4 linked regions of the Homo sapiens genome follow. The protein of the gene in region 2 interacts with the protein of the main gene of each other region in a pairwise test. Each region holds a gene or a part of one and is shown on either strand. Other genes may lie near its edges.

What was found.
Region 1: the proteins of TMEM86A (region 2) and TMPRSS2 interact in binary tests that used the Homo sapiens proteins (3 or more experiments, as listed by UniProt).
Region 3: the proteins of TMEM86A (region 2) and GJB5 interact in binary tests that used the Homo sapiens proteins (3 or more experiments, as listed by UniProt).
Region 4: the proteins of TMEM86A (region 2) and SLC30A2 interact in binary tests that used the Homo sapiens proteins (3 or more experiments, as listed by UniProt).

The regions. Positions count from the first base shown.
Region 1 is NC_000021.9:41,477,142-41,484,164, reverse strand, and holds part of TMPRSS2 (transmembrane protease serine 2), read left to right. Parts: intron 1-3,562; coding exon 3,563-3,689; intron 3,690-4,882; coding exon 4,883-4,993; intron 4,994-7,023. UniProt on the Homo sapiens protein: Plasma membrane-anchored serine protease that cleaves at arginine residues. Participates in proteolytic cascades of relevance for the normal physiologic function of the prostate.
Region 2 is NC_000011.10:18,693,805-18,701,778, reverse strand, and holds the start of TMEM86A (lysoplasmalogenase TMEM86A), read right to left. Parts: upstream 3,001-7,974; 5' UTR 2,893-3,000; coding exon 2,872-2,892; intron 847-2,871; coding exon 582-846; intron 207-581; coding exon 1-206. UniProt on the Homo sapiens protein: Catalyzes the hydrolysis of the vinyl ether bond of choline or ethanolamine lysoplasmalogens, forming fatty aldehyde and glycerophosphocholine or glycerophosphoethanolamine, respectively and is specific for the sn-2-deacylated (lyso) form of plasmalogen.
Region 3 is NC_000001.11:34,750,617-34,758,050, reverse strand, and holds the start of GJB5 (gap junction beta-5 protein), read right to left. Parts: upstream 3,005-7,434; 5' UTR 2,856-3,004; intron 745-2,855; 5' UTR 721-744; coding exon 1-720. UniProt on the Homo sapiens protein: One gap junction consists of a cluster of closely packed pairs of transmembrane channels, the connexons, through which materials of low MW diffuse from one cell to a neighboring cell.
Region 4 is NC_000001.11:26,036,729-26,043,118, reverse strand, and holds the end of SLC30A2 (proton-coupled zinc antiporter SLC30A2), read left to right. Parts: intron 1-410; coding exon 411-570; intron 571-1,313; coding exon 1,314-1,419; intron 1,420-3,207; coding exon 3,208-3,342; intron 3,343-3,813; coding exon 3,814-3,959; 3' UTR 3,960-5,867; downstream 5,868-6,390.

The sequences.
Region 1 (7,023 bases), on a different chromosome or scaffold from region 2:
CAGTCATCACGCTGTACACATTAAACATGTACAATTGGGTTTTTTTGAGACAAGGTCTCCTTCTGTCACCCAGTCTGGAGTGCAGTGGCTCAGTCATGGCTCATTGCAGCCTCGACCTCCTGGGCTCAATCCATCCTTCCCCCTCAGCCTCCTGAAAAGCTGGGGCCACAGGCATGTACCATCATGCCAGGCTAATGCATATATATTTATATTTTTTGGTGGAGATGGGGTTGGTCTCGAACTCTGGGCTCAAGTGATCCTCCCGCCTTGCCCTTCCAAAGTGCTGAGATTACAGGCATGAACCACAGCACCAGGCCTACATGTAAAATTTTTATTTGTCAACTATACTTTGACAAAGCTGAGAAAAAAAATCCTAATATTTAAAAAAAAAAAAAAAAGGACTAGCTTGAGACCTTTTCCAGCTCTCTGGCTTATCAGCTGCCGTCTCTTCCGGGTGCAGATAGCTGGAAGGGAAAGAAAATCCCTAAAATTACCCACAAGCCAAGAATGAAGTGTCTCCCTTTGAGCCACAGTGGCAGTTTTGTTTTTAATCATAGAAGTGTATTTTGAGCCGGGTGTGCTGGCTCACGCCTGTAATCCCCGCACTTTGGGAGGCCGAGGTGGGGGGCGGAGGGGGTGGGGATCGCCTGAGGTCAGGAGTTCGAGACCAGCCTGACCAACATGGAGAAACCCCGTCTCTACTAAAAATACAAAATTAGCCGGCGTGGTGGTGCATGCCTGTAATCCCAGCTACTCATGAGGCTGAGTCAGGAGAATCTCTTGAACCCAGGAGGTGGAGGTTGCGGTGAGCTGAGATCATGCCATTGCACTCCAGCCTGGGAACAAGAAAAAAAAAGAAGAAGAAGAAGAAGTGTATTCATTTCAGTTACTTTTAAAAAAGTGAACAGACTTTATATTTTAGAGCGGTTTTAGGTTTACAGAAAATGAAACAGACAGGGCAGCGAGCTCCTTGTACTCCTCCCCAGCACACAGTTGCCCTGTTATGAACATCCCACATCAGTGCTGTGCGTTCATTAACACCGATGAACCTGATGCATACATTATGATGAACTGAAGTCCTGGACTTCACCCTTTCTCTTGTACAGTTCTGTGGGATTTGACAAATGCATAATGCTGTACAGCCACAATGATAGTATCGTCCAGAGTAGTTCTCCTGCCTTAAAACCTCTTTTGCTGCACCTGTTTCTCTCTCCCCACTCACCCCAGCTATCTGATCTTCTTAGTGCCTCCGAAGTTTTGGTCTTTTCAGGATGTTGTAGCGTTGGAATCATGGAGTATGTAGCCTTCACCACATACACCTTCCTTCACTTTGTTGGCTTCCTTTACTTAGTAATATGCATTCAAGTTTCCTCCATGCCTTTTCATGGCTTGATAGCTCATTTCTTTTTAGCACCAAATAATATTCCGTTGTCCAGATGTAGCACAATGTTTATCCATTCATGTAACCTGTGACCGACTCACAGATAGGATGTGGAATCACTCACCACAGAGGCATTAGACAATAATCAGACCCAAGTCATTTCATGGGGGAACAAGCCCACAGGTACCAGACTGTCCAGTGAGTCAGGGCCACTCGTAGGAAGTAAGAAGAGAGGCTAGAGCATAGCCAGGTCCTCACTTTATACTTTAAGCCCATGTGTATTTCTCCCAAACCACACAGCATTGTTTCCATGCTTTCAGCTTTGCATGAATAACGTGATACTTGAACGCATCATTTATCACTTGCTCTCTTTCCCACAGCGCTGTTTTCAAGCTTCTTCCTGTTCATGATGCTCTGCTTAACCCTTAAGCTGCATGGGATTCTGTTCTGTGAATACGCCCACCCCATGTATTATCCTGCCCAGCAAAAAGTCCCCAAAACTCTGGATGGTGGTTACCTCTAGGGAGGGAGAGAAGAGATTGGGAATAGGGAGCGACTTCAACGGTGTTTGTAATGTTTTGTTTCTTTAAATAAAAGAGCTGAGATCATTTCAGCAGAATGTTGATTTAGAGTCTCCTGGACAATTTGTTGCTCAAAGTGCTCTCTTAAAGAGCACTTTAAAAAAAAAAACCTTTTATCTTATTATTTATTTATTTATTTATTGAGACGGAGTTTTGCTCTGTCACCCAGGCTGGAGTGGAGTGGTGTGATCTCAGCTCACTGCAACCTTTACCTCCTGGGTTCAAGCAATTCCCCTGCCTCAGCCTCCCAAGTAGGTGGGATTACAGATGCGTGCCACCACACTTGGCTAATTTTTGCATTTTAGTAGAGATCGGTTTCTCCATGTTGGCCAGGCTGATCTCAAACGCCTGACCTCAGGTGATCTGCCCGCCTTGGCCTCCCAAAGTGCTGGTATTACAGGCGTGAGCTACCATGCCTGGCTTATCTTATATATTTTTAAAAACAGCTTATTGAGATCTAATTTATGTACCATAAAATTCAAGTATATAATTCAGTGCTTTTATATATAAAACATATATATGAAATAGCTTATTGAGATATAATTTTTTATATAAAACAGCTTATTGATATGTAATGTATGTACCATAAAATTTAAATATATAATTCACTGGCTTTTATATATTCACGAATATGTGCAACTATCACCACAGTCAATTTTAGCATATTTTCATCAGCTCATAAAGAAACCCCAAGCCCTTGAACTATCACCCCATATCCCTCCTCCCAGCCCGTCCCTCCTACTCATAAGCAACCACTAATCTACTTAGTGTCTATAGATTTCCTACTCTAGGCATTCCATGTGAGCGGGATCATGCAATACGTGGGCTCACACAATATAAGTGGCATTCCATGTGAGTCGGCTCATGCAGTATGTCCGGCTCCTTTCACTGAGCATAAGGTCTTCAGCACTCATCCAGGTTGCAGCCTGTGTCTGAATTTCATTCCCTCTTCTGGCTGAATCGTATTCCATTGTGTATCTTGGACATATCCTATTCTGCTCACCCAGCCGTTGGTGGGCGTTTGGAGTGTTTTCGCCTTTCAGCTGTTTTAAGAGGGTTGCAGTGAACATTTGTACAAGTTTTGGACCCAATGCCTGTTTTCAATTCTCTTGTGTAGAGAGCACTTTTTAGCAGAAAAAGAATAGATTTGTGGCCTCCCTTTGTGTGCGGTCAGTGCCTTGAGAAGAGTGAACTGTGCTGCCACCTCCGGAGCCGTGGAGAGCGCGGGGCTTGGGTAGCAGCTAGGACGATACAAGTTGGGACAAGGCCAGGTGCAATGGCTCACGCCTGTAATTCCAACACTTTGGGAGACCGAGGCAGGGGGATCACCTGAGGTCAGGAGTTCAAGACCAGCCTGGCCAACATGGTGAAACCCCATCTCTAATAAAACAGAAAAATTAACTGGACGGGGTGGTGGACGCCTGTAATCCCAGCTACTCGGGAGGCTGAGGCAGGAGAATCACTTGAACCTGGGAGGCGGAGGCTGCAGTGAGTGGAGATCAGACCACTGCACTTCAGCCTAGGTGACAGAGCGAGACTCCGTCTCAAAAAAAAGAAAAAAAAAGAAAGAAACTCATGGATAATCCTCCCTCTCGTGCAGTTCGCCTCTACGGACCAAACTTCATCCTTCAGGTGTACTCATCTCAGAGGAAGTCCTGGCACCCTGTGTGCCAAGACGACTGGAACGAGAACTACGGGCGGGCGGCCTGCAGGGACATGGGCTATAAGTGAGTATGGGGCAGCACCCGCCGAGTGACAGTAACAGACAGCAGAAACACGAGAAGACCCTCTCTCTGCCTCCCTGTGAAAGCACCGGCACATGAGTGCTGGGGACAATTGTCACCTTCCAAAAGCTGAGCCCTATAACCAGCAGGTGGAATTTGTCCTGCTAGGGCTGTGCCCAGCACACAGACCTTGGCTCACTGCCACCTTGCCCTGCCTCCTCCTTGGCCTCTATAGACTCCTGGTTGCTCGGGAGTGCCCAGTGCTGTGGTCATCTGGTCAGAGGGGTAGGCTGAGGGCGTTAGGTGCCTCTTTTTCCAAGGTGCCTCTCAGCCAGGGTCCATTCACCTCCCTGGGTAGAGGTTGGACCAGAACAGCTGGCGAGGAGGGTTGGGCTGGGGAGAGCAGCAGAGACAAATCCTGTGCCAGTTTCACTTCATTCGGGAGCCATGGAAGCCTTTTGAGCTGGGGAGAGAATCAATCAATCAGACTGATACTTAAAAAATGTCATTCCTGCTCGTAGCTCTGAGGGAAGGTGGGAAGGCTTAACAGGGTGTGTGTCGCCTGACAGTGATTCCTAACGGGGGTGGGGCGGTGGTTACCATTTACCAGCACTGCCTGGGGAGATGCGGCAGCCCTCAGGCATCGGGGGAGAGGGTGGTAGGATGCTACTGCCACTTTGTTTTCCATGGGAGGGTCCCCAGGTGATTTCTATGCAACTTTAGGGTATTCAATATGCCAGTTTTCAGAATGAATTACCACTCGGTGAGAAAGTTGGCATCTTAGCTAGTCACTGTGACATCCCTAAACAGCAGGGGTGAATTACACAGCAAAGCCCCCCCATCACAGTCCAGGAACCTGGTGGAATTGATAACTGGGGCCATGTTAACATCTGTACCTTTTATTAGATTAAATGTGTGTATGATTATACAATCCTATGTCCTTCTCATAGTTTCTTGATCCTAACCTGGATAAGAAACACGACCAATGAAGGAATTTTGTCTGACACTTTAGGGTTATTGAATCGAAAAATCGTTACAATATTCTAGCACTTGGTTAGAACGTGTGATTTTTTTTCCTAAATGCTAAGGTTTTTCCCTCTTATTCTGAATGTCGTATGAGCGGTATTATGACATAGTATAGGATTTGTGTTTGCTTATGCCTTAACCATTATCACAAATAAGGTTTTCTTTTTTAGGAATAATTTTTACTCTAGCCAAGGAATAGTGGATGACAGCGGATCCACCAGCTTTATGAAACTGAACACAAGTGCCGGCAATGTCGATATCTATAAAAAACTGTACCACAGGTATGCAGCAATTTCTTCTTGAAAAATTTTGGAATGAAATCAACTAGGAGACACCATGGGGAATCGTTGTCCTGAGTCTGATTTCTCTGAGCTGCAATACTCGGTCTGGATGGGTTTTGCATTGGGAGGAGATTAGAGTCTGACCAGGCCTGGTTACTCTAAGCAGCCCTTGGTTTATTCATAGGAAGTGGCTGAGGTTTCTCTGCTATTTCATTTTCAGCCTCTACCGTCTGCCCTTGTTGGTAGCGGCTCACACTTGCAACATCGACATTCAACTCTATTTAGTTTTCTTTCCTCTTCAGACATTTAGAGGTGTACCTATTTTGTCAGGGCGTGGTTCTAGGAATCCAAGATAATGTCTCAGTGTCCCAGCCAGGGTGACCGGCTCATTCCAGTTTGCCAGGGACTTCACTGGCTTGAGCAAGGGAAGTCCTGCTCCATTCCAGGCAGCTGGGCTGGCTGGTCCCGTTAGCCCCAACCCCGGGACAGCAGTGCCAGAGGGTGCTCTGTGAGGGATGGGCAGCATTCTGGCGGCCTGGGAATGAGTTGTGGTGTTTCCAGGGGGTAGAAGTGGGTACAAGCCACAGGTCACATGATGAGTGGCTGACCTGGCTGGGAGGGCAGAAGAGGGGATGGACTTAGGCTCTTCCTTTTGCTTTGCACATATTTAGGATGTTTGCAGACTTGCTATGATTGTTGCTGTTATGTGTTTTCTGATGTGAAAGATACACAGTGTCCTTTGCCCATGAGCTCTCCTTGCCTCCCAGGTCCCCAGGGCTTATGCCTGGTGTCTAGGCATCACCTCCCTGCCTGCCAGGTGCCAGGTGCTGCATTTCGGGGGAGGATGAACTAATCACCCCGCGCCACCTTTCCTCTGAGTGGGAGCCTGGGGCAGGTTTGCATTCCTGGAGGCCGCTGGTGGAGGGGTCTGGGGGCCTGACTTCCACTGCAGCCTGCTGTCCTGGGGAATGTGGCAGGGCAAGCCCAGTGGGGAGGGCTGTGCACGGCCAGGTGCACCCATCAAAACAGCAGGGCTGCGGTTTGTCCCTGTGGAGAAGCTAAACACAGCTGCCTGGGCACTTTGTAAATGCTGAGTGGTTCTTTGTCTTTCTGGGTTACACACGGAATCAGGGAGCCAAGTCCAGCCGGGCAGGGACGGGGGGAGGGGAGGAGGTGCTGCCGTCCCTTGGCAAGAGCCTTGGGAACTCACAAGGAGGCTGGAGGGCTTGGAAGAAAGAAGAGAAGGCCATTGTCTGGTAGGCTCTATTCTATCTCGGTGGTGGTGGTGGGGGGAGGCGCACTTCTTTTCCTCTTTCTGTGCAGCAGTTGCCCTTTGATGCCTGAGTTCTTGGCTTGTTTTCTGTCGGGCTTCTGTGAATAACCACATGTGCCCTGGCGCTGTGACCACACAGGGCTATCCCTACCGACCTTAGGATTCTTAGGAAATGTCTTCTCTTAAAGGGGACATGTCTTCACTTGGCCGTGTCAGTGCCCCAGAGCCAGAGTCCACCTGGAATGCACCTGTAGTCACTGAGAACCCGGGGGGTGTGCCTTAGTAAGAAGGTGTCAGGAAGGACCTATTATTGTAGGGCCTGGGCTCCTGCAAGGTGGTTTGGGGGTGGTTGGAGGAAGCAGAGATTTGCTCTGGATTGGATGCTGTCAGGAAGCAGGGGTAATTCTGTGAGGCTGCTTTATTATTTTTTTTCTAGGAGGAGGTTGGAATGAGGCTAGGCTAAAGCTGTGATTGGTAAAGAAACGTCCGTCGCTCAAGTTAGCCAGGACAGGAGGAGACATCAGATCGTGATTTTGTGGTTGTGAGCACAAGGTTCCTGTTCTGTCTGTTCAGACATCATTTCGGAGGAGGCTCCTTGTGTCTTGCCCCATCTCAGGCATGGAGGGGCCTAGTCCGATATTGACGCTCAGTGAAATAATTCAGGTTCCGCAGAGCACACGGCCCAGCTATCAGGGCGGGCCAGCTCTGCATGCCAGGGGCCGCGTCTTCCCTTCTCAGCATAGCCTGGGAAATTCAC
Region 2 (7,974 bases):
CCCTGCCATAGCTCGCCAGCCCATGAAGCCGATAAGGGCCACATAGACCCCCACCAGGTAGGTGAAGGCACCTGAGAGGCATGGGTAGAGGAGGGCATAGCACAGGCCCGACAGCGCTGCCATCACCAGACCTGTCCGAAGAGCCAGTGGCTGCATGCCAAAGGCCGAGGCGTAGAACATGTGGGTCACAGCAAACATCAGCAGACCTGGGGGTAAGAGGGGCAAAGGCAGCTGAGGGCAAGCTTGATGAAGAATGAGTAACAGGGTGGGGGTAGGGATGGATGTGGCGATGGAGTGGAGTGTTTGGGATAACCCAGCAGCTTTGCTTTGGGATAACAGGGGTAGGAAGATCTAAAGTTAAAGACCACCACCCCAGTCCCCTGAAGGACTCTGGAACTGATCACTAGTTCCCCTGCGAGGTCATCCCCTAACAAGGACCCTCACAGTCCCTGGCCTCAGAAACCCTCAGGCTCCCCACACTCTGGTTCAAGAACTCCCTCTTCCAAATCTTTGCCCACAGCCCAGGACCCTCTATCCCCCAGCCCCAGGACTCCTCCCAGGCAACTACTATGGCCACTGACCATGCACGAAGTATCCTTGGTCCTGCCAGATGAGGAAGGCGTCACCTACAGCAGAGAAGACAAGCCCCACAAAGATGCGGGTGGCGCTGGGGTGGGCCAGCAGGAATCCCAGGCCATGGGCCAGAAGGAAGAGCCAGAGGCAGAAGATAGGCAGGCACTTGATGAGGGTGCTGACCCACGATGGGCTAGATGAGGGCAGCCAGAGCACAAAATACACGCAGGTGGCCTTGAAGAACGGCACCAGTTTGGGTCCTTCACTCTTCACCTGGAGGACACAGGACAAGGGCAGCACTCAGAACTTGGGGGTTGAAAGCCAGCACCCTCAGCCTAGGCATCCACCCCAGAGACACTCCCATCCATACCCCCACCTCACTTCCACCCCCAACCTGAGAAGACTGACACAGAGAAACCCAGCCTGGCCTGCCTCTACCAGCCAGCAGGTTGTGGCCAAACCCATTACTGCCCTGAGGCTCAGTATATTAGGAGGGGCACCCTTCTGCAGCCTAGTGTGCTTCTCCCTTCCTGCCCCCTCCTTCTCCCTCCTCAGGGCCCCTTTAGCCCCTCCTCTCTGCCAGCAACAGCCCCCAGCTGTTCACTCTGGAATGGAGTGAAGTCAGTGGGAAACCACAGAGACACCCTGACTGGCCAACTCGTGATCCTCAGCATGGGGCCAGGGTGCAGCCTTAGGGCCCTGGCAACACCAGGTGTGTGCCAGGAATGTGGGAAAGCAGGCAATGGCAATCACCTCAGCCACCACAGCCTCTCTCCTCCTCAACCAGTCTGTTCCTCAGCCTCCACTCCACCTGCCCCAGCCTGAAGGTGGCATCAAGGGCAAGGAGGGCTATGCTAGGGATGCTGGCTAGATAAATGGACCCATGAGTTGGGAGCAAGAAAATTGTCCTTCAAACACCAAAGATTTCAAGGATTGGGGGAAGGGAGGGTGTGTGTCAGTCAGCCTCATTTCCCAGAGAACAAGAGCAACTCAAGCCACACCAGAAAGAGGCAGGAAAGGGGGGAGAGGTTCTATTCCCAGCTTCTGATCTGGAGCCAGCAGACAGGCTGGGAGATGGGGAACTGAGAGGGGGAAGTTAGAGCAGCTGACTTGGTCTCAGCCGGATTAGCAGAGGGCAGCTAAAGAAAGGTTGTACCCAAGGCCACTGCAGGCAGAGTCCAAGCTGGGGGAGGGGGCTGCAGCGATGTTCTGAATCTGTGATCCTTGAAACTCCTTTCCTTGGGCTGCTAACAGATCCATTGAGGGTGATATGGAGCAGCTGGAGTTCCCTGTACACCCACACTCTGCCCAAAGCGATTGTGTCTCTGGCTAGGTGAGCTGCCCAGCACAGGACTTGGGAAACACTCAGAGTCCAGACGACCAGGTACCTAAGGACTGATCAGACTGTGATGAGGAGGATTGGGAAGAGGCGGATGGGTGGTTCCAGGGTCCAAGCCTTTCCTTGTTCTGCCAGAGGTAAGAGCAGTGAGAAGAGATGACTTCCACTTCCCATGGAAATTAAGGCTGGTCAGGGTAGGGGCATGGTCAGAGGAGGCGGCTGGAGGGGATGCCCAGGCCCACAATGCCCAGCAACCACCTGCCAGCCCCTGGGAGCATTAACCTCCGCTCCATGGCCTCTCCCAGCCCCATATTTTCTAGAAGGAGATACTGGCAGTAGCTGGAGAGACCCTGACAGTTATAGGGAACCCAGTAGTAGAATAAGGAGGATGGGGAGACGAAACAAAAGGTTCAAGTTGAGAAAGTCTGAAAAGCAGGGGATGTCATAGAGAATGCCCCCTTTTCCCCCAGCGCGTTATCAGCGCTTCTTAGACTCAGGGGCGTCCGCCAACTTGTTTACAAAATGAGGAAGGTTAGGAAACAAACTTGGGACGGCATTCCCAGGAGGTCCCTGTTATCCTCCCAGCATCCCCCGCCCCCACGCCTCCCTGTGGTCCGCCTACGCGGAACTCTGCGGCCGGCAGCGGTCCCCTCCCTCTCCCGGGCCGCGACCCCGCCGACCCGCGCCAAATACATGGAGATCAACAAAGTCACGCTTCCGAGTCACGTGGCCAGTGTTTTCCTCCCTCCGCGGGCGGGCTGGGGGCGCGCGAGGAGGGGCGCCGCGAGTCTGAGGAGCGGGGGGCGGTGACAGCGCCCGCCTCCCGCCGCGGGACTCCGGCCGCCACGGGACCCCCGCCCCGCCTCGGCCCCTTCGGCAGCTCGGCCTGCCGAAGTCCGGTGGCCAGGCCGGTGGGCTCCAGCCGCGCCGGGCACTGGCTCGCTCGCTCGCTCACTCACCACAGTGACCGGGGACACCATGGCGGCGGCGGCGGCGGCTGGCACCCTGCTCCGGGCTGCAGCGGCCAGGACGCGCCCACGGCCAGGTAAGCCGGCGACGATTCTACAAAGCCCGGAGGGACGGACAATACCTCCCGAGCGCCCGGCGCCGGGGTTCTGTCAGCTAGCCCCGTGACGTCACCGCTGCCAGGGCCAATGAGCGGGCGGGAGCCGGGGGGGCGGGGCCCGGCTGGCGGCGCCGGCCAGGCCCCCGGCTGCTGCTCGGAGAAAGGAGGCATCTCCCAGGGGTCAGAAGGCGGATACCCCCCAGGCCCCGCCCCCTTGGGAGGCCGTGCCAAGGCGTCCACGGAACGTGAACGTGACCGTGACCCCGGTGCCTGGGTGAGGACTGAGCTTGGCTGAGAGACAAACACATTGCTGTCCTGGACGCACAGCCACATACATTTTCTCATAACCCGGGAGCAAAAGGCAAAGACAGATTCCCTTAAGCCTTTAAACATGCAGTCCACGCCGATACGATTGCAATTGGACTCACAACCTTCACTGTGTACAAACACACATCCAAATCATCAGCAAACACACAACCTTCGACTTGAAAAGCGGCACGTATATAGGTATGCAGCAGCCATGGACCCATAATCGTAGCATATACATCACACATACAGAATCATAATTACCCTTAAGCACTCAACAAGTACACAGATCCAAAACCAACAACCACAAATTGACATATATGCTCCATGTAAGAAAAGAGACATATACAGGGACTCTACAGCAGCTCGTAGACCCATGACCCTAATATAGAAACAAACACAGATAATTGGCCGTAGGCACACACCTCTTACAACTCAGAGACCACTGCCACACATACAAGAGCACCCCAAGAATGACAGACAGGCAGACCCAAAGAAGCGTGAGCTAACTTTGCCAAAAATACGTCCCAAGTGGATTTAATGTTGATTTTACGTAGACTAAAGGAACACAAGCTCATTCAGAGCGGTGCATGTTCAGAATCATTGGAATTACATGGAGAGGTAGGTGGCCAGATGGACTGAAATCTAGTCCCAGTTTTGCCACTTCCATGCTGTTAGATTGGGTGAATCACTTCCCCTCTCTGGTCTTGATTTCCTCACTTAGAAGATGAGCGGGTGAGTTCTAAGGTTCCACCCAACTCTGACATGTGTAGGTTGGGGAAGAGGAAGGGCTGCTGGTTTTAGGAAATTTAAGTCTAGCAATCCTGGAGATGGAGATTTCAGCTGTATCTCAAAGGATGGGCAAGTAGTCTGTAAGCTACTGTAGAAGGGCAGTAGCTGTGTGTCAGGCTTTGGGAATTGATGGGAAAGGGGTGACCAGCCCTAATTAGCAGCCAAAAAGGAGTTTCAAACATCCTGGCATGGTGACACAGGCCCTTGTGCTGGTCCTGAGCCTTGTGCTGTTTGGGCAGAGACCGACAGGCTGAAGTCTCCTGTAAGCCCCTCCCACAATGGGTCTCTTCCTTTTCCTTCTGGATCCTACCCAGTTTTCCCTAAAGTCCCAACACCCATTCAGAGGGGTGATAGTCCTCTTCTGGTGACAGAATTGGCAACCAGAGATTCAGAGTCCAGTACAACAAGAGTGAGAGTCAAGGCTTGGGACAGGAGTCACCCAGATCTTCCCCCCATCCCCTCCAGTCCCCTCCAGCATAGAGTTCTAAGGGTCAATGACCTCTGCCTACTCCTCTTTCTTTCCAGTTAGGGGCTTTGGGGAGAGCACCTTACCAGAATGAAGGACTATAACTGCTGCCCCAGGGCTTTGTCACTCACACACACACACACACACATTTCTACCAAGTGTGCTGCCTAGAGAGAACACTGGCTTGAGAGTTAGAAATGCCATTCTTAGTCCTAGTGCTTCCTTCTCCATGACTCACTACTGTGGTGTATAATTGAGCACATCATTCCATCTTTGGAGCTTCAGATTTCTCATGAATAAAATGGAGGAAATGGGCTAGTAGAAGGTGCAAATATTCCAGTTTTCCAGCCAAACCCTCTAACATCACCTGAGGGATAGTTCTCAAACAGAAATTTGCCAAGTCAGGGCATTTTTCATTTCTCTAGACCTTAGTTTGCCTCTCTATAAAAATGAGAAGGTGGACTATATCCGTGGTTCTCAACAAGTGGTACCTATCAAAATTACTTGGAAAGCTTTTAAAAACATAGATGCCGTTGCCCCACCCAAGACCTACTAATTAGTGGCACCAGTTCTAAGAAGCTTGCACATACAAATACCTAACAATACAAAACATGAGACTTAGAACTCCCATCTACAGGGTTCCACTCAGTGCTTGATTACCCAGTAGGCAAACTAATCATATACACAAGTCGCCTACAAAGCAGAGGCATCCCCCCTCAATGCCGGTTTTTCTCCATTTGCCTTCCCACCACCTAGATTCATTCTTGGCTCTTCTCTACCCTGTCCTGGGAGCCTGAGCTCTATGGACTGTATCTTCAGGGATCACCAGGGCCCTGGCTTCTGGCTGAGTTCAGCCAATGAAATTCAGAGGCAGGAGATGAGAACATGGACGAGGCCTGATGGACCAGGCTGAGATTCTGGCTGTGGCCTGCTTCTCCATGGCTACAGCCCCAGGCTCCCTCCCCATACCTTCAGGCCAGGGGTGGCAACAGTTTCCTGCTGTTGCTAGTCTTTTTTTTTTTTTTTTTTTTTTGAGACAGGGTCTTGCTCTGTCCCCCAGGCTGCCATGCAGTGGTGTGATCTATGCTCACTGCAACCTCTGCCTCCTGGGTTCAAGCGATTCTCCTGCCTCAGCTTCCCTGGTAGCTGGGATTACAGGTATGTGCCACCACGCCCGGCTAATTTTGTATTTTTAGTAGAGATGGGGTTTTACCATGTTGGTCAGGCTGCTCTCGAACTCCTGACCTCAGGTGATCCACCCGCCTCGGCCTCCCAAAGTGCTGGGATTACAGGCATGAGCTACTGTGCCCAGTGCTATTGCTAGTCTTTAGGTGCCTCCTCACCCATGGCTAGTTTCGTCTCTGCAAATAGTCATTAAATTCTCTTCAGTTAAATTATTGAGTGTGCCAGTACCCTGGCTGATATAGGCACCCACAAAGCAAGGGCACCACCCTCTTCCCAAAGAGAAAGAGCTTATTCTGACTTCATTCATATGGTTGAGATTTGTTGTTTCAAAAGTAAATTTTCATTTACTATTTACTAGTGTTTACTATTTACTAGTGTTTTTATTTTGAATTGCATATTGCAGGAGGCAGAAAGTGGGATAAGGCTTCCTGAAAATGGGCATTTCTCCCTTTTGGTAGGAACTGGCATTTCTTCCTTTCCAACCTATTGGCATGGCCCTTTTCACACAGCTTTGTAATTTTCCCTGTGCTTGTGAGCCCATTCACTCACTCATTCATCCAACAAATGTTTACAGTGCACCTAATATGTGCTAACCACTGTATTAGGTTCTGGGGTGTAAAATATTGAGTAAAATATATTCTCTATCCTTATGGAGCTCACAGTTCATTTCAGACAGGCAAGTAAACAATTATTCAATGTGGTAGCTGACCTAATGAAGTATGAAGGTGTCACAGGTGGCATTAAAAAAAGACATCAGAATTATAAATTACACCTGGAGCAATTGCAGGAGCTAGAGTTAAATCTAGAAGAACGAGTTAGTCTTTATTGAGCAGACACCAATGTATATGCCATTCTAGGCAGAGGGAATTGCATGTGTACATAAGAGCACAAGAGACACACTGAATTCAGGGAAATATCTGTAGTACTGATTCGAGCTGGGGAGTGAGAAGGTGAAACTGAAGAAGCATGAGCCAACTCAGATCTTGAAGATTCTACTCAGCCAGGCGCGGTGGCTCATGCCTGTAATCCCAGCACTTTCAGAGGCCAAGGTGGGCAGATCACCTGAGGTCAGGAGTTCAAGACCAGCCTGGCCAACATGATGAAACCCCGTCTCTACTAAAAATAAAAAAAATTAGCTGGGTGTGGTGGTGGGCACCTTCAATCCCAGCTACTTGGAGAATCGCTTGAACCCAAGAGGCAGAGGTCGCAGTGAACCGAGATTGTGCCACTGCACTCCAGCCTGGGCAACAAGAGCAAGACTCTGTCTCAAAATAAATAGATAAATAAAAATAAAAATGAAGGTTCTACTAAGAAGTTTAGACTTGACATAGTAGATGACACTAAACCAATTGTCCTCTGTTCCTTAGCATCTCTAATTGTGCCCGCTGTCATCCACCAGCGACATGGGCAATGCACAGAAATGATGACCCATCATCATTCTGAGCTTGCCTCGCTTCCCCCATGGGGCTTCTTCTCACCCAGTGGCCTCCTTCATCTCTGACCTCTGTTGTTTTGCCACAGGATATTTTTCCTCACTTAGTTTGTCCTGCTTGAAATCATAATCCAGCCCTAAACTGATTATCTTATTCCCAACCTGATGCTGGATCTCAGCTAATTTCTTTTCTGTTTCAGGCCTCCAGAGCACTTTTTTTTTTTTTTTTTTTTGAGACAGAGTCTCGCTCTGTCGCCCAAGCTAGAGTGCAGTGACGCAATCTCAGCTCACTGCAAGCCCCGCCTCTCCAGTTCACGCCATTCTGCTGCCTCAGCCTCCCGAGTAGCTGAGACTACAGGCGCCCACCACCACATCCAGCTAACTTTTTGTATTTTTAGTAGAGATGGGGTTTCACCATGTTAGCCAGGATGGTCTCGATCTCCTGATCTCATGATCCGCCCGCTTCGGCCTCCCAAAGTGCTGGGATTACAGGTGTGAGCCACTGCACCCAGCCTCCAGAGCACTTTTAACCAACTCTCAGGGTCACCACACATACCCGATTCCACCCCCACCCCACCTGCAGATATGTCGAAGAAATCAGAGATGTTAAGGAGGGTGTGACAAGGTCAGATGTTCTGATAACAGTGTGAGGGCGTCAGTTGTTGAGTTGTAAGGAGTGAGCTGAATGTGTGTGTCAGCCTAGTGGAGAATGTTTGGGTGGAACTGGATACAAAACTAGGGCTCAGGCTCACAGGGAAGATTTGGAAGTCTCAACCATACTGAAAGTCTATGGATGTGATGAACCAGAGAGGAGC
Region 3 (7,434 bases), on a different chromosome or scaffold from region 2:
TTGTTTGCAGGAAGAGGTGGTACCGTGGGGGTGATGACCTGTGCACATGGCTTGAGCTTTCCTTGCTGCCAGGCACTCGTGGCATCTCTTGCTCACCAGGTAGATGAGCTCCACGAGGTTGAGCAGGATGCAGATGGCAGCTGTGGCCACCATGAAGAGGGTGAAAATGTTCTTCTCTGAGGGCTTGGAGATGAAGCAGTCCACTATATTGGGACATGGATCTGCGTGGCACTTGACCACAGGAGGGAGGATATATTTGGGGTAGAATGAGTGGAACACATAGAGAAAGGCGATGTCCACGCTCGCCTTGAACACTAGGCTGCAGACATATGTCCACCAGAGCCCACCCCGCTTCTTGCCGGGGTTCAGGTAGAGGCGCCCACTGTTCTCCCCATGGGCTTCTCGGTGCCTCTTCTCCTGAACCTCCCGGTAGGCCACGTGCATGACCACGAGCAGTGAGGGGCATGTCACCAGGATAAGCTGCAGGGCCCAGAGGCGCACATGGGACACAGGGAAGAACTCATCAAAGCAGACGTTGGAGCAGCCGGGCTGGCGAGTATTGCAGTCGAAGTCCTTGTGGTCATCACTCCACACACGCTCGGCCGTCACCAGGTACACCAGCACGCGGAAGATGAAGACCAGAGACAGCCAGATGCGCCCAAAGGCTGTGGAGTACTTGTTGACCCCACTCAGGAGTCCCTCAAAGATACTCCAGTTCATGGTGGACCCACGCGTCAGCTGCTACTGCAGGGAAACAAGAACAATCATTTCCTACATTTATCACAGACTTGCTCTGAGCACTTTGTAGAAATATGTCATCACATTTCATCCTTACCATCACTAGAGGAGCTGGGTTCTACTACTGTCCCCATTTTGTAGAGGGAGGGAGCTGAGGTTTAGTGGCATTATATACAAGGTTACACAACTATTAGGTGCAGGGCTGGGATTTGAGCATAGGTAATTAAGTCCAGAACCCAGCTCTTACCAATACCAGTGGATAAGGGCAGGTCCAGGGAGCCACTCATTCCTCCCCGGGCCTGAGGCTCTGGTCTTGAGGTTCTGCAGAGTGAAGACTGGTGGAGCTGGGACATTCTGCCTGCTCCCTCTGTTTCAACCCTGGCCCTCCTCCTCAGGGGGGCTGAGCCTTGAGATGGTTCTCTCCTTTCTGAGCACTGCTGCCTCTTCTCAGACAGCCCCTTCCCCAGGGGAACCTGCTCTTTGTCCTTTTCTTGGCTCAGGGATGGGACTGGAAAGGAGGCTGGAACCTTGTCCCCAAGCCCCCATCTGGTCTAACACTCTGTAATTAGCCAGGCAGAGTCCTGCTCAAGTGCCACTCAATGCAATCCAGCTGAAAGCTAAAGCAGGCAGCAATAAATTCTCTTCATACAGTAGGTTTCCTAGAGTAACCTGGTATTCCAGTGTTTCCCAAACAGTGTTCCCTGGAACCCTGTCCCATAGGTTGGCAATAGGAGAAGTGAGAGAAGAGGATTCTGTGTCAAGAAAAGTTGGCAAACATTGGGTTTAGTAAAGTTAAATAGGGTTCTTTTGCTCAACCGTGCTAATAAACTCACTAATAAATTCACCAAAAGAGGTATGAAATATGTGGCATTGCCCAAACTCATTTGCCCACAGAAGCCCTTTTCCTCCTGACATAACATTTATCATCTTGTGGAACAGCCTTGTCAAGACATCAAGTGGGAAATGCTGCTCCTGTCAGTTCTGCTGGTGAATTTGGCCTGATGAACTCACAGAATCAGATTCACCTCCGCGTAAGGACTGTGACTGCTAGGCAGAGTAAGGGGTCCCCACTTCCTCACCCGCGAGTCCTCTGCCTGATTCCTGGAGATGGGGGTGTGTCCATTAAGACCCATGCACTGTGGTTTCAACCAACTGTGCACCCTGGGACCCCAAGGAACCTGTCTGCCTAGCCACTAAAGGGCTCATGATGGCCTTCCCATGCTGGTCCAGGCTGAAGCTCACCAGGCTCTCTGGAGCCTCTGCATGATCAACTGCAAAGCAGAGTAGTGATAACAGCCAATATCCATGAAGCATTCATGCCGTGCCAGGCACCGCTCTAAGTTCTTTGTATGAATCAGTACATTATTCCTTCACAGCAACCTTAGGAAAGGGCATATTTTTTATTCCCAATTTACAGATGAGGAAAGAGGAACACAGAGGGATTAATTAACTTGCTCAACGTCACACAGCTAATAAGTGGCAGAGCTAGGATTTGAACCCAGGCAGGCTGGCTCTAGAGCCCACCCTCCGGGAACTGCCCAGCCTTAGGCCTCAGACCCTTTCCTCAAGTTTCAATGAGCTGCCTGCCTGTTTGTGTGCAGACGGATTCTGTCCTTCCCCTTGTGTGTGGATCCTGGATGAGGGTGGCTGGGGGAACCTTTGCCCACCACCCTGTCTCCACACCACCTGCGCCACTTGGACGGGGGATGGGTGGAGGTGGGGGCCGGGGTTGGGGGGAGCTCTGTTTTGAATCACCATCTTGCATGCTCAGTCCTGTCTAAGGTAGGACTCCTGCAGCTTCTCAGGGAACACCCAGGAAGGCCCCGCCCTTAGCCCCAGGGGCTCTCACCCAGCCCATCCCTACTTGGGGAGGAGTGGGGCAGGGCTTTGCAGGCCCAGGCAGAGCTACCCTGCCTGCTGAGCTTCCGGCCTGGCCCCTGCTCCTACCTTTGCCCGGCTGGGGAGACCTGAAAGAACCCAGAGCCCCTTATTCCTCCACCATCAGGACCCAGGGTGGCAGATGTGTCCAGGCCACATCCCACCACTCCCCAGCAGAGAAGTGTCCTCCTGCCACGTATGCCAAGGGGCAGGGCACATGCGGACACAGATGCCCTTACCTGAGTGACTACTCCTCAGGGCTCTCCTGGCTCCCAGCAGCCGGCAATAGGACTCAGCAAGCAGCTTGAATTTCATATCCAGAAGCGGGGAAGGTTTTCGGGGAAGCCCGTTGAAGCCTGTTTCCAGGACAGAGCCTGCCGGGTGTGCTGGCCCAGCCTGGGAGGAGGAGGAGCTGGGACCTGCACTGCCATTGGCTGGGCCCCAGCCTCCCCAGACTGCTTCTGATGAGGCTCAGGAAACTGAGGGGTTCACTCCTCCCAGGGCGCTGAGCCTCGAATCCTGGTATCCTCTCAGGGGAGAGCCACAGGTCCACTCTGACTCCTTGTTCATCCTCCCATCTGTGGGCTTGTGTGGGAGAAGCTGAGGCCTGAATCCCAGCTCTGCCACTTTCTCACTGTGTGATTTCTTGCCTTCTCTGTGAAAGTGGGAAAAGAACAACACCTACCTCATAGGGTGGATACGTGGATTAACCCAGCCTTAGGGGTGAAGTGCTTAGAACAGTGCCTGACACAAGGGAAGCCCTGTCTACAATTGCCTATAATGCGTGTATACTGCCCAGCACAGGCCTGCCGCATGGTATGTCCTCAAAAAAATGTTTCTTCCTCCTCCTTTTCCTTATTCCTAGGCCTTTTCTTTCTGAGATACAGGGAAGGCAGAGGAGAAGGGAGGGAGAGAGAGACGTATGCACTAGAGAAAATCTCATTTGGATGCATGTTGTCTTTGGGTTAAAAAGGCCAAACCCAAGCCAGGCAGGAACCACAGGAGAGGTGGAGAAGGTGGGCAGGGGCACCTGGGGAAAGCTTCTCATTAGTGCACAGACACGGTCTTTTGGCCTAATTGACTTCCAAGGTGCCCTGTATCAGCAGGTCACTTGGGGTCAGGATTCAACAGACAAAGCATCCAGGAGCCACAAACACCTCATGTCCACAAGCAAACACAATGTAGCTTCACATGAGCATACTCTTACACACAGGCCACAATTATGGGCACAGTGTTGCACACACATGCAGCAGTGGCTTTATTTTATTCACTGCTCTATCCCTTGTGCCTAGTATGGTGCCTGGTGTCTTGTCCAGTTAGGCTTCAATTTATATTTATTGAATGAATGATGTGTGAAATGCACACACCCTGCAGAGAGTCACACATTTCTATACTCCATGCTCTTTCCAAAAAGCTGTTGCCAAGTACAGGAGAGAGGAGGCATATAAAGAGATCAGTTACAACATTGTGAGAAGTCCTAGAAAAGACACAGAGAGAGAAGGGAGTTTTAAGTTCTGCCAGAGGGAGAGCCGGAGAAGGTAACATTTAAGCTGGGTCTTGAAGGATGTATAGGAGTTTACCAAGAAGAGATGCTGAGGAGGGGCCTTTGAGGCAGTGGGCACATAGCGTGCAGAGGACCTTTGTGAAAAATAATGGAAGAGCATTGGAGAGTGGGCTGGGTAGTGGTGGGGACACCACATGGCAAGGAGCCTGGAAGGTCAGCAAAGACCTTCCAGACCATGAAGGACCTGGAATGTCATGCTAAGGAGTTTGAATTTATCTTGGGTGCAGAGGGAGGCATGAGGGAATTCTTTTCTTTTTTCTATTTTTACATTTTGTATTGTGCTGAGGCAGGAAAAAGGAAGAGACATGGTCAGATTGGTACATTTGATTCTCATTATTCAAGGTAGTTATAGTCTATGAGTCACCATGAGCACCAAGTTAGTGAATATTGAAGCATTCTTCCTAGAGGACATATGAGGTTAGGTTCCTGCAAGCTTCTGTTTACAATGTGGTTATCAACTGATCAATACAGAAGTCTGTTTTATGTGTGTTTCTGAAGACACCTTGTTTAATATATATTGTTGACTCATTAATATTGGACTCATAGCCAACACCACTATAACTCATGACTGAATGAAGCTTGTCTAACACACATATTTTTTCCATAAGGCTCATCGTAGCCTTCGTGTGCTTAGAAACACTAGATGGCACTTCAGCACTGTACTCGGGGCCATTTCAAACAGCAAATCCCCAGCAAAAAGCAAGAAATGAGAAAAACATGGCACCAAGTAGACCTCCAATAGAACATGTTTATAGCATTAGAGCTGAAAGGGGAAGGCAGAATGTCACCTTGTTCAGCCACAGCTGGGAACACGTGCATTGGGAGACTCAAATTTTTGCCACTCTGTGCATGTTATAAATGGCCATGAAAGTGTCTTAAGTGTAGATTTTGGCTTAGGAATAAATTGTGGTGAGCTGGAGAATGCACAATACGGAATCTGTGAATAATGAAGATCAACTGTATGTTTAGAAAGCTTCCTCTGTTTGAGAAAAGAGGCTGGAGGGGCTTGTGAGACCGGTATGAAAGTTACTGCAATGATTTAGGCAAGAAATGAGCAAGAGGGTTGGATTTGGGAAATAGCTGGTAAATACAGCTGGCAGCTTTGGGGGACTGACTTGGGGGACTGACTGGATGTAGGATGTGAGGCAGGAGGCTGACCTAGGATGGTTCATAGGTCACTGGTTTTGGTGATTTGATAGGTGATTGGGCCACTGATAGAAATAACCCTATGAGGTAGGAACTCCAATGGCTCCATGTTCCAGATGGGAAAACTGAGGCCCAGAGAGGCTAAGAAACTTGCCTGGGCTTGCACAATCAGTAATCAGGAGAGCTGGGGGTGGAATTCAGGTAGCTGAGCTCCAGAGCCAGTGCTTTTAACACCGTAATGCTTCAACATCTTCATACCCAAGGATTTGGCAACACTGTCGGCTCCTTTATGCTTGATAAACAGAATCATTTACTCATCGTCAAATATTCATTAAGCACCTACTATGTGCCACGTGTTGCGCCTGATAGTGGAAATAAATCAGTAAGCATGGTTCTCATGGTTCAACCTCTGGGCCTGGTCCTCTTGAAGATTACAGTCAAAGGAGGAAATAAGACATTAAACACACACACACACACACACACACACACACACACACACACACCAATAACTCTAAAAATGCAATTGTGATAGAGTCACAAAGGAGAAGCACAGTGCCAAGAAAATGTATAATGGAGAACCAGACCTAGTTTCAGGAAGCAGGGAAAGCCTTTCTGAAAGTGTAAGATTTAAATTGAGGCCTGGAGCTTTCTCCTCTGCCAGTAACCCTCTGCCTGCTTCCTAAAATGCCAGCACTCTCCAGAGCTCTCCTGGATTCTCTTCTCTCAGTGCACTCTCCACAGGCTGTGGCTCCTACCACCAGCTTGGGGCTGAGGACTCCAACTATTGCTGCCACCTCGTGACCCTGGATAGTTCATGTGGCTCTTACTCAGCACACGTAGCACTGAACTCATTAACTCCAAACACATCTGTGATGAACCTATGCACCACTTTTCCCACTCACTCCCCCTGCTATGCTTGGAATGTGTCCCCCAATGCTCTCATGTATTGAAACTTAACCCCCAATGCAACAGTGTTGGGAGGTGGGACTTTAAGAGGTAATTAGGTTAGTTGGATTAACATCGTTATCATGGGAGTGGGTTTGTTATCATGAAAGTGGGCTTATTATCAAGTGAGAGGTTTCAATGGAGGCTTCATGGCTGTTCTTTTACTGAGGGATGGGACTCAGGGGATGCTGGAAATCCAGGAGGGAGCTGGAGGTGGGAAGGGTGGAAGGTGGGCATGACAGAGAACAGGCAAACCTGGAAAACAGGGAAAGAGTTGTGTGATGGGCAGAATCCACACAGACCTGGGCTCAAACCCCATTTCTGCTCCCTAACTATGTGGCCTTGGTCAACTCATTTTTTCTCTCTGAGCCTTAGTTTCCTTTCTTTCGAATGTGGAAGGGGTCGGGTGGTGCTGTTGTGAGGAGTGCTTGAGAGGATGTATATAAACATGGTGATTTACAGCTGGCATGTCTCACACATTCATTTTCTTCCACTCTGTGGGCTGTTGCTCTCTGACCTGTTGGGTGGACATTTGCTTTTCCTCTGGGACGAATGGTCATGCTCTTCCCCTATGATGTGCCTCCTTTCCTAGGCCTCTAGACCTACTCCACCAGCTCTACCCATGCTTCCAAGCTCAGTCCGAGGAGGCTGAAACTGGGATGTGCCCCTTGGTCTCTCCCTACGATTTCTGAGGCTCTGCATGAGCTGGGTCATGGAGAGGCTCACCATTCCTGAGACTGGGGCCCAATGCTTCTAGGTATCCTCGTCCCTCCAGCCCGGCCCACACTAAAGCTGAATCATTGGTCTCAATAACACAGTGTTTTGCCGTCTCTGGGCGGGTTGTCTCAGTTCCATTTGGGGCCTCTCTTTTAGAGGATTGAGGGCTCATGAGCAGTTCTTGAAGCTTTGGCCACTGGCTGCCACATTTCCCCTTGCTAACAAGAGTTCCAAGGCCAAGGACCTTCCTGTTGGGCTCTTGCCTGGATGCTCAGAATCTCTGCTGAGTCATGGTCCAGTGTGGGCACCACAGGACTTACTGAAAGTAACCAGACAGCTCTGCATTTTAAATCTGGTTCCATCAAGTGGTCAGTACACGTAGCAGGTGCTATCAGTATCTGCCCCAGATCCTCTTGGCATACTCCTTTTCGGTGGTTAAGAGGACC
Region 4 (6,390 bases), on a different chromosome or scaffold from region 2:
CGGGAAGAGGCCAGTTGTTGCAGGAGTAGCTGTCCCTAGGGGCAGAACCCAAGTCTGAAATTGGTCTCAGTTAGAGACAATGGGTGTCTCTTTCGGGGTCTTTGTTCAGAGGCCTCAGTTTCCCCATCTGTGACATGATGGAGTGAACTGACAGTGACCTCCCTAATGCCCTCCTGCTCTGAGATTTGACACTGTGGCATTGTTGTGCCCAGGCTCAGCCTGGCATTGGCGCTGGGCCCTATCTCTCATGGCTGTCTGAACCAAGGCCACGTGGGTTGGACTTCTCACATGGCCAAAGAGATCACAAGGTTTAGGGGCTTGAGATTTTTGCCCTACAAGTTGGCTAGTCCTAATAGGTGACCTCCATCTGCGACCTCAGTGAGCCCTTGGCTTTGTCTCCACTTCCATAGAATGGGGTTGACCCTTCACCAGTCTGGCCATGGGCACAGCCACGGCACCACCAACCAGCAGGAGGAGAACCCCAGCGTCCGAGCTGCCTTCATCCATGTGATCGGCGACTTTATGCAGAGCATGGGTGTCCTAGTGGCAGCCTATATTTTATACTTCAAGGTCAGAGCTGGGACACAGGGTGGTGGGGGTGGCAGGGGAGTGTAGACCACCTGAGTATACTCTCTACCGGGGTTTCTTTTCAGATTCTAGCTCCCTCCCAGTTCTAGGGAAAAGGGTGGGGAGAGGAAAGGAACATTTATCCAATACCTACCAAGTGTCAGCACTTCTGATCCTCACAACAACCTGAAGGGTAGGTGGTAGTGTTTTCTGTAGCTCAGAAAGGTTCAGTGACTTGCACAGTGTCACACAGCCGGTAAAGCATAGAGCCAGATTCAAGCCTACGACTGTGTGTTGTCAAACCCTGGGCAATGCCCATCACATAGAGGCAGGGAGCTGTAGTGGAAAGAGGCAGGCATTTGCTCTGAAGCTTGGCTCTCCTCCTTGCTAGCCATGTGACATTGGATGAGTTTGCTTGCTCTAATGGAGCCTCAATTTCCCCATCTGTCAAATGGGGACGGATGGCGGATCAGATGGTATCTAAGATGCCTTTTTGCTCTGTCCATGTCTCAGCTCCTTGAGAAGGAGGGGTGGGAAGGGACTGCCTTATTCTGAACTGTGGTCTGTCCTTTCTGCTCTTGCAGATGTGAAATAAAGAGCAGAAAACTGGGAGGCAGGGCCAGGGCGAGGCTCATGCCCACCCAGCAGAGAGAGCACCTCTCCCCAGCAGTGCTGGGTGGGAGGGGAGAAGGGAAGCTGAGGTGTTAGATGGTGAACTCCAGGTCTGCCTTCCTGTCTTCCTGCAGCCAGAATACAAGTATGTAGACCCCATCTGCACCTTCGTCTTCTCCATCCTGGTCCTGGGGACAACCTTGACCATCCTGAGAGATGTGATCCTGGTGTTGATGGAAGGTAACCTGGGCTTTGTGGCTCCCTTTTTGCTCTTGGCTCTCAAGCGCTAATCAGCTCAAATAGGGTATGTGTGTGTCTGGGGCATCCTAGCACATGGGCGGGGAGCCAGGATCCGGAGCCCCGGCATAGGCTGGAAAACCTCCTGGGGCCCCTGGGCTGATCTTGACATAGAGCCTGGGCTTTCAGGTGTGGCAGTTCCTGGAACCGTCCCCCAGCCCGAGTCTTCCCTTCCCCCTACCCCTAAGGGTGCCTCCTCTGCCTAGTCAGGTGGCTTCTGGGGGACATCTGTAGCATCTGGAGCTCTCCAGCCCTCCCCTATACACTTCCCCAGGCTCTGGCTGCCTTCTCTCAGGAAGAGAGAGGGGGTGAGGATTATGCTTCTCATTGCACAGAGGGGCAGACTGAGGCTCAGAGAAGGACAGTCAGCCTTGGACAAAGCTACTGAATCCACTGCAGCGCAGGCCTTTCCTACATCTCAGGGACCAAACAATGCCACACCCTGTGGGGACATGGCTGTGCTTTGTGGGGTTGGAGAACGGTCAGTGGTGGAGAATGATCTGGTCTGCCCTGAATTACCTTTTTTTTTTCTTTTTTCTTTTTTTTGAAACAGGGTCTTGCTCTGTCATCCAAGCTAGAGTGCAGTGGTGCCACCAAGGCTCACCGCAGCCTTGACCTCCTAGGCTCAAGTAATCCTCCTGCCTCAGCCTCCCAAGTAGCTGGGACCACAGGCGCATGCCACCATGTCTGGCTAACTTTTAAATGTTTGTAGAGATGGGGGGGGGGTCTCACTATGTTGCCCTGGCTGGTCTCGAACTTTTGGGCTCAAGCAATCATCTCACTTCGGCCTCTCAAAGTGCTGGAGTTACAGATGTGAGCCACCACACCTGGCCCTGCACCTTGGCTTTCTTATGCTCTAGGCCTGGGGTCTTGGGCCAGGGTCATAGGCCTCTGCGTGGTCAGGGTCAGTCTGGAATGGAGTAGGATGCTGGCCTGGGCTTAGCAGTATTTGGCTGCAGGTCAGAGCTTTTTCTCCAAGAATATGCTAACCCAGATGAAAGCGATAATGATGAAGATGATGATCGTGCCCTGGGTGGGTCCAAGGATTCTCAGGATCTGTTCTTTCCTTCTTTCCATTCAAAAATATATTTATTGGCCAGGTGCGGTGGCTCACACCTGTAATCCCAGCACTGTGGGAGGCCGAGGCAGGCAGATTACCTGAGGTCAGGAGTTCAAGACCAGCCTGGCTAACACAGTGAAACCCTGTCTCTACCAAAAATACAAAAATTAGCCGGGCGTGGTGGCATGCGCCTGTAGTCCCAGCTACTCAGGAGGCTGAGGCAGGATAATTGCTTGAACCAGGGAGGCAGAGGTTGCAGTGAGCCAAGATCACGCCACTGCACTCCAGCCTGGGTGACAGAGCAAGATTCCGTCTCAAAAAAAACCAAAAAATATATTTATTGAGCACCTACTATGGAGTAGGTGCTGTTTTAGGCACCAAGGATACTGTGGTAATCAAAGGAGACTGTCCTGCCCTCATGGAGTGTCCATTTTAGAGGGAGAAACTGACAATAAGTACATTCATAAATAATTTCAGTGTTAAGAGTGGAGAGGAAATACAACAGAGTGATAGGGCAGAGACCTTGGGAGGTGAAGGCAGCCTCAGACCTGCAGGCCAAAGAGGTCTTCTTTGAGGGGATGACACCTGAGGATCAGGAGCCAGCCCTGCACCAATGGGCAGGCGTGGGAGGGGTAGTTTCCTTTAGTTTCCCCTGTCCTTGCCGTCCTCAGGGACCCCCAAGGGCGTTGACTTCACAGCTGTTCGTGATCTGCTGCTGTCGGTGGAGGGGGTAGAAGCCCTGCACAGCCTGCATATCTGGGCACTGACGGTGGCCCAGCCTGTTCTGTCTGTCCACATCGCCATTGGTGAGTGCTTGGGACACTCAGGGTGGGGTGGGAGACAGGCAGCCAAAGGCCTAGTGCCATCCCCAACGGGTCCAGGTGACCCCAGATGCTCACAGTGCCCATGCATCAAGCCCAGCCTCATGCTGAGTACTTGATACGCATTATTCCATCTGATCAGCACAATCTCATTTATCCATGAAGAAACTGAGGCTGGGGTTGGGTGGTAAAGTTACTTGCCCAGGCTTTTACAGCTAGTATATGGCAGTAGGTGGCAGATTCCTGGCCTTAAGGCCAGTGCTTTACCAGCTCTTTCAGGCATGAGCCAGGTCTGGGCTGGGAGGCTACCTGGCAGAGGAATGGAATCTGGGGGCTTCTCCATGTTCATGGTCCCCCATCCTGTTCTGCTGGGGATGGGGTATGAGATTTGGGCTCCTGATGGTTCCAAAGGGCCAGAGTAAATGGCTTCCCCCGCTGTGTCCTCTCGGCCCCCAGCTCAGAATACAGACGCCCAGGCTGTGCTGAAGACAGCCAGCAGCCGCCTCCAAGGGAAGTTCCACTTCCACACCGTGACCATCCAGATCGAGGACTACTCGGAGGACATGAAGGACTGTCAGGCATGCCAGGGCCCCTCAGACTGACTGCTCAGCCAGGCACCAACTGGGGCATGAACAGGACCTGCAGGTGGCTGGACTGAGTGTCCCCCAGGCCCAGCCAGGACTTTGCCTACCCCAGCTGTGTTGTAAACCAGGTCCCCCTCCTGACCTCTGCCCCACTCCAGGAATGGAGCTCTTCCCAGCCTCCCATCTGACTACAGCCAGGGTGGGGACTCAGCGGGTATAAAGCTAGTGTGACCCTGCTCTTCCAGCTCCTGGGCCAGCTCTGGAAGGGCTGTATTTGGGCCTAATCCTCAGCAAATGTTCTACCACTCGCAGGGGCAAAGGTGGTGAGCCACGGGACGTCCAAGGGGAGGCTGGCCCCAGCGCGCCCATACTGCCTGCCTCATGCCCCATTCTCAGCCTGGCTGGCCTTTGCCTTTATGAATCTGAGCCCCTCCATCTGCCTATAGCAATAGGCACGGGGGTGAGGACCCTCACACTCTCATTTGAGCCTCCCTGAGGCAGGGAGCCAGGAGGCACCTGAGGCCTATCTGTGCCTTAGTCACTTCAGCTATGAGCCAAATGTTCCCTTTCCTGGAGGGGAGAGGCTTCTTACTAGGTAAGAGACAGGTTTCCTCTTTCCTTATTTCCTCAGCTGTGCCAACACAAAAAACAACTTTGGCACAGGTGGTGGGCAGGGGGTAGAGAGATTTCAGCTTGGGTTCTGCACTAACAGCCTCCAAGCCCCCTGGCACTTCTGTTGCCCTGAGAGTGTCCCAGGGGATTCAGAGTCTCCAGAAAGATATGGCTGGGCCAACTCTGTTGCCTACCTGGCCTGACCCAGTCGGAGCCTGACATGGTGGAGGGAAAGGGAGACAAGTGGGGCTGCACTCGGTCCAGAGGCCAGCTAGGAGGGAAACCGCAGCTTCCTGGGGCTTGTGTGTGAAGATTCCTGACTTAGGGGTGGCTTTTGTTTACAAGATGCAAGAGGGGAAACCTGTCCCCGACTCATCGAGACAACATGCCCAGTTATCAGGGAGTCCTGTGTCACAAGGTCTGTCTCTGCCATTGTAAGCAAGTGCCTTGGGCGAGCTGGCCTCTGCCCCACAGTCTCATCTGTACACCGACAGGGTTGATGCCTCCCTCACAGGGTTGAGAACAAGAGCCAGTTGGCCAAGTACCTGTGGTTGTTGAAGATTGGTTACTTTTACCATCCTGGGGACAGGGAACTCTGTGGCCCGAGGCTGCCTCACTGAGGAGTCAGGTGGGCTTCCCAGCCTCCCCAGGGGCAGTGCTGAGTTTGTCTTGACTGTTCTGGCCCAAGGTGGGAGGAGGTGGGTTTGGTCACTTGCCTCCCACTTTAAATCTCTGTCTTTCCATCTGTGAAATGACCTCTTTGTGCCTTCCCAGCACTGTCATCCTGATCGCCTGTGTTCTAGGTAGGTGGGTCCTTCAGCCCCTCCAGGTCTGTGAAAAGTCTGTGGAAAGCACTGGCCTGGAGAGGGGTGGGGGGTTGCTGGTGGGTGCTCCATTCCACCACAATCTCAGGGGACTCAACCTCCCCTACCCAACTCCCCACCCCCACCCAAGCCATGGCAGGCCCCAGGAACTTGATCCTGGGCTTTGCCGTATGCCAAGTCCTTACACCCCTCTCAAGAGACAGTCATTGGCTGGGCACGGTGGCTCATGCCTGCAATCCCAGCACCTTGGGAGGCTGAGGCAGGCAGATGACTTGAGGCCAGGAGTTCGAGACCAGCCTGGCCAATATGGCGAAACCTCATTTCTACTAAAAATACAAAAACTAGCCAGGCGTGGTGGCTTGTGCCTGTAATCCCAGCTACTCGGGAGGCTGAGGCAGGAGAATCGCTTGAACCGGGGAGGCAGAGGTTGCAGTGAGCTGAGATCACACCACTGCACTCCAGCCTGGGTGACAGAGCGAGACTCCAGCTTAAAAAAAAAAAAAAAAAAAAAAAAAGGAGACCATCACTGCTGTCCTGCATTCTTACAGATGAAAAAACAGGCTCAGAGGTTGAATCGTTTTCCTGAAGTCAGACAGCCAGTGCAGGCAGGTCTGGGATTTCTGCCTCATTTCGGTAGACCTTCCTCTACAGCAGGGTCTGGGGGCCTGTCGGTCTGCGCTGCCTGTTGGTACAATACAAACCCCTGGGACCAGCAGTGCCCGGCCCATGGGTGAGGACATGCCAAGGCAGTTCAGTGTCCTGGGTGTCACAGCTGTGATTGGAAAGGTGCCTCTTTCACCTGGCTGGGCCTGGCATCCAGCGCCCTCCCCACCCTGGGAAGGCTGCCTGGGCCCCAGCTGTATGCTTTCCCACCCACCCTCAGTTCTTGACTCCGGGCCGGACTGCCTCTCCCCCACCTCTTTAATTTCCAGTCCGCCCTGTACCTCAAGCATCTCACAGCACCACGCCTCCCAAGGGTAACCCACTCTGCCACTCAGCTGTGACTGGCTCTA